Linked DNA regions of Homo sapiens: region 1 is linked to region 2. The links come from fine-mapping of genetic effects on gene expression. A gene starts in region 2. The other region holds a variant in brackets. All regions are shown on one strand. Distances are between the middles of the regions.

The links.
Region 1: its variant is fine-mapped to the expression of UPP2 in prefrontal cortex (BrainSeq, PIP 0.95).

What each region holds. Positions count from the first base shown.
Region 1 is chr2:158,164,055-158,166,986 of GRCh38, forward strand. It overlaps CCDC148-AS1 (CCDC148 antisense RNA 1), which reads left to right and starts at 2,596. Exons shown (of 5, transcript NR_038850.1): 1 at 2,596-2,669. The variant G/A (reference allele first, on the strand shown) is at 1,401.
Region 2 is chr2:158,100,293-158,103,224 of GRCh38, forward strand. It overlaps UPP2 (uridine phosphorylase 2), which reads left to right and starts at 1,584. Exons shown (of 7, transcript NM_173355.4): 1 at 1,584-1,833. The coding sequence starts at 1,772.

The sequences.
Region 1 (2,932 bases), 64 kb after region 2:
GGCAGTTCCTCAAAATCTTAAACATAAAATTACCATATCATTTACCAATTTCACTTGAGTATATTCTCAAAATAATTAAAAGTAGTGGTTTGAACAGATATTTGTACATCAATGTTTATAGCACTGTTATTATAGCCAAAAGGTGAAAACAATCCAAATGTCCTTTGACAGATGAATAGATAAAAAAAATTTATATATATATATATACACACACACAATGGGATGTTTTCAGCCTTAAAAAGGAATGAAATTCTGATACATTCCACAACATGGATGAACCTTGAAAACATTATGGTAAGTGAAATAAGTCACACATAAAAGGACAAGTATTATATGATTCTGCTTATATGAAGTACCTAGAATAGACAAATTCATAGAGAAAAAAATTAGAATAGTGGTTACCAGAGGCTGAGGGGAGGAGGTGTATAGTTTTTGTTTAATGGGTTCAGAGTTTCAGGTTGAGATGATGAAAAAGTTCTGAAGATGAATAGGGGTGATTGTTGCACAACAATGTGAAAATACTTAATGCCACTTAACTGTATGCTTAAAAATGGTTAAAATAGTAAATTTTATATTATGTATATTTATCACGATAAAAAGTCAATGTCTTGAAAGACAACAAAGGCTGTAGAAATGAATCAAATTAAAGAAGAACACAAAAGCAATTTAAAAGTTGAATAAAATGTTAACAATGGGAGAATCTGGGGTAAAGTTACAACAATTTTATTCTTGCGGCTATTCTATAAAGTTATTTCCAAATAAAAAAAGTTTTTAAAAATGAAGAAAGAGATTAAAAGAATTCAAAACAAAGTGACAAATAAAGACTACAGACAAAGAAGATCCAACATAGCATAATAGCATAATAACAGTCCTGGGGAAAAAAGGAAACATAACAAACACTAAAAATTATAATTTTACAAAATTCCTGAAATAAAATTGAATTTATATTGTGAAAGGGAATATAATTTACTAAGTATATTAACCCAGAATGACAAACACAAAGTCCAGTAAAACTGCTATATTATAAAGGAAGTGAAAAAAACTCTAATTAGGCAAAAAGATCAAGTGATTCTTAGGGAAAGAAAACCATGTTATAGCCAGCCCTTTGACATTTTATGCTAAGAAAAGAAAATGTAAATAAAGTATCTTAGACCCAGGAAAAATTTATTTTCAACTATAAAGACGACCATCAACCTGTTATTAACATTCAAGGACCCAGAAAATATTGCTTCCATGACTAATTCCTAAATAATCTTCTGGAAAACAGGCTTCAGACAACCTAAATGACAAGAGAGAAATTGACATTAAAAACTGGCAGTATTGGTAAATATATATTTACTAATAGAATAAGATTCAATCATGGATAAAAGAGAGTGTGTATAATGTCTACACAGTCCCTC[G/A]CAATATAGATAACAAAAAGAAAAAGAATAGAAAAGGCATAATAACCCCAAATTTTATTATTTTTGTTTTTATTATATTGGTATTTTATTCTAAGACTTTTGTGTGGATAATGTAAATGAGTAATTATGTCATATTCTAACATCCGTGTGTAATTGGGCACCAGAATTGTCAGTAAGGAAAAAAGAAAATACAAAAGTAACATACAAGATATCAAGTGAAAATCCTATGGAATTTGAAGTAACAGAATAAATAAAAAAAAATTTTATCTTTAGATAATATAAGCGTATGTCTGGATTTGTTGGGTTTTTTTTGTTTGTTTTTGAGGCGGAGTCTTGTTCTCTCACCTAGGCTGGAGTGCAGTGGCACGATTTCGTCTCACTGCACCCTCTGCCTCCTGGGTTCAAGTGATTCTTGTGCCTCAGCCTACTGAATAGCTGGAATTACAGGCGCTCTCGACCACACCTTATTAATTTTCATATTTTTAGTAGAGACAGGGTTTCACCATGTTGGCCATGCTGGTCTTGAACTTCTAGCCTCAAGCGATCCACCTGCCTTGGCCTCCCAAAGTGCTGGGATTACAGGTGTGAGCCACTGCACTTGGCCTGTTTTGTATATATGTCTGTACATGTATATGTATATGTGTATGTATATGCATATGTATGGGAGTGTGTGTGTGTGTGTGTGTGTGTGTGTGTGTATTTTCTAACCATGCTCATTGAAAAGGTCTAGAATAGAAGATCAACCTAGTAGCAATGTGTATTCTTTGTCTCCAAATTTTGGTTTTGAAATACGATTTTCCAATAAAAAGAACCAAAGCTTCTCAGAGAAAAGGTTAGTTCCAGGTCAGAGCAAGAAATATTCAAAATGAGCTTAAAACATCTTGTTATGCCCGATAACAAACATGACAGATTTCAAAAAGTGGCTGCAAAAATATTTCCTATTTCACATACTTTTTTCCAATGTGACCTTGCCATCAATAAGTGGACTTTTTCTCAGCCTTTTTTAATCTGGGAGAGTTCTATGACTGCTTTGATGAAAAGAGTATGGAGGAAAAGACCCTATCCCAGTTCCAGCAGTAGATCTTAACTGGTCTAGCAGCTTGCATTTTATACCTCTTAGAATGTTTGCTCTTGGAAAATTCTATCTTGGAACCCAGCTACCATTCTATGAAAAGCCAAGCCATCTTGAGAAGTCATGTGTAGGTGGTCGGTCCCATTGACAACCTCAAATGAGCTGCCAGCCAACAACCAGCATCAACTGCCAGTCAGGTAAGTGAGTCCTCTTGGTCATTCAGCCAAGTTGAGCTTTTGGATGACTACGTCCTCAACTAGCAATTGACTACAAATTTATAATATACCCCGTGGTAGGCAGAAAATGTCTCCCAAAGATGTCAATTTCCTAATCTCCATAATCTGTGAATGTTATGTTACATGGCAAAGGGTATTCTGATCGCTAATCACCTGACCTTAAAATAGGGAGATTATTCTGAATTATCAGAGTGGGCTTAATGTGATCACAAGAGTTCTGAGCA
Region 2 (2,932 bases):
GCACTGTTAGTGATCAAGATCACTGGTTGACTGAATCTGCACCGGAAACAGACATGTTAATCAACCTAGTTAATTCACTGTGGTAATTAATTACTGAACACTTATCTAATTAGCTAACATTTTTACCTCTCAAAGCCAGAGGTAAATGCCAGATTGAAATTGGTGGTTCTCCTCATTATACCTTAAAAATAAAATTGAGAGATATGGCATGGAATATCAAATAAAGGTGTGCTGGTGCCAGCAGTAGTGAGTGAGTATGTTGAGTCTCAAAATTGCCAGTGGTTCCTGGGAAGGAGCAGCAGGTAGACCAGCCTGAGATGAGTCAGGAGGTAAGAGACAGATGTATACAAGCTATCAACAAGAACTACTGTTCTAAGTTACAAAGGCAACACACATGTTAAAGACTATTTTGCCTCATAGTCATCATTACCTTTTCCAGGATAAGTGTCCTCAGGAATTTTTTGCTATCTGGGCACAGTTGCAAACGTCTAGTTGGTGGTAACAGTGGCAAGATTTAGGCTACATGGATTCCCCAATATAGAGTCCCCTATTCTTTTTCCTTCCTATTCTGTAAACTTTGCTGTCTGACCAAGATGGACCAAAGGAGGCCAGTGGGGCATTCAAAGAATTTGCCAAGAATGACTGTCACCAGGAAGAGGAGCATCTTCTAACATGGAGAACTCAGTTAGGATATGAGCACTTGATTCTTGACTGTGATGCACATTCTTGGAAAGAAATCCAAGCATATTAGGAGGTGTCTTGTATTTGCTGCTGTTTGGCATTTATAGACATTTTAGGTTCTGATTTGCCTGAAAGCCATGAGACTACGTTCTTGAAGCTCTCACCAGCATAGAACTTCAGCTGATTGCTATGGGAGTGAAGAGAAAAAAGATCAGGATGAAGTTGTCTAGTTTTCTAGATTTTTCTGTCCCAAAAGTGAAAAGTGAGAAGCATTAGTGAAAGTAGTGAATTCATGCCTTTCTTGGCAGAGACTCCGTTTTCTGAAAATACTATGCTGTATTATTATTCCATGTGGATTAACCCCTGGTTCAATAAATTTTACCAATGGCCTACAGTTTAACTAAAGAAAGAGGCCCTGGGAAATAAGTTTTGTTTAATTATCAGTTCTTCTGTGTGAACTGGAATGAGCAAAGTTCAGATAAAGGGACATTCTGAGGTCCAGACTTTGGATGCTTCCCTAACTTGTGATGACAAAGAATGAAAACAAGTTGGCGAGGGGCTGGATGGAGATGGGGAACTGAAATGTTTGAGAACTGAAAGTTCTCGTATGTACTGGACACAGTTTTGAGAAGACCTGGTAGGTGTGTTATAGAAACCAAAAGAGGACTCGTATCCATATACAGTTGTCTCAAAGCAAATAAGCCTGTTTGCAACATCAAACCTGTGTTGGGATCAAGGACAGATGTAAGGGAAAGTTCTCACCAATAGTTAACAAGCTAACCAACCTGGTCAAAGAGCTAGGATGCCACACCTTCAAAGGGGGCCTATCTTCTTGAGGAAGTGCTGCTCTGAGAGCTGGGCTGTGGTATAAAAGTCATGTCAGGGAGGACATCTTTTATTTGATAGGAAAATTTAAAATGCTAAAGGAAAAATTTTCTTAGCAATTTCACAGGAAAACCTAAGTTTTAAGAGAGGTTATCATTCTGACTGGGAACTGAACTATTATGACTAGGTCTATAATTTAATAACAAGTCACAATATCTCTCTTTCTTGACATCAATTTAAGGTGACTTTTCACATAGTAGAGAGAATGGCTTCAGTTATACCTGCCTCCAATAGGTCCATGAGATCTGACAGGAATACATATGTTGGGTGAGTAATTTTGATTTTGTAAATTTGTTTTGATCAGATGGTTGCTCCTTGGATTTTGTATTAAATGATTAGATAATGGGCCTCTACAGTTAAGCAAATTTCTTAAATGTAGAGATTATATCACTGGATGCAGCTCATAAAGCAATAAAAACAGTGGAAAATGTATTTTCAATGACATTTTTACTCCTTGGTTTTGGGGGTTAGGGTTTGGCTCATCTAAGAAAATGGGGCAAAATAAATTATAAAAAACATGCAAAAGTTTAGCCAACCTTCAGTAGTAAACAAATTCAAGGTTCAGCCTGGGACTCACTATAGAGTTCAGCCCTTAATTCTAAGACCATGGGCTGCAAATGAGAAATAATTAAAAGGGCCTCCCAGTGCCTGAGGGAGGTTTAATTGTATTGCAGGATATTGTGGAGTGATTTCATATGCTTCATGATGGACCTTACATAGAATTTACTTCTGAAATACCGTCTATGTGATTCATCTCATGGGTAGATATAAAATTGCTGAAGCTGTCTACAAATTTAGCTCCAGTTCCTGCCCCAGGTTAACAGAACACAACAGAGCATTAATCATCATGAGGCATAAGGAGATTTTGCTGGTTCCCTCTGATTTCCTGAGAGTTGTGTGAAATGTCTTGCTTAGAGCCTCCATTATGTCAGCATTTCAGAAAACACTCCATTTGCCCATCCCAAACAGAGGTAGCCTCCTGCATGTTCCCTTCTTCAGGGAAGCCCAGGAGAAAAAGAAAAGGAAAAATTATGAAGATGAAGGTAATGGCAAATGGAAAGACTTCTGCTCAGCCAGCACTTTCTTTTGGTTACCAATATTTAATACTCATCATGTAGTGTAATTTGTCACGATTTACTAAAAAGACTATTCTATGTGTTAGGAAAAGGAAGAAGAGTTTGAAGATTCAACAACACATATAAACCTATTTAGTAAAAATTATATATTTTGGAAAAATCAAATATTCCAAAAACTACATTCATATTGGGTAGAAATTTGGCATGAAATCCCAAACAAGTTTTTTCTTTGGTACTGATAAAGTGATCATCTTAGAAGTGCTTCTGGATGAGCCCAATGAAACAAGAAA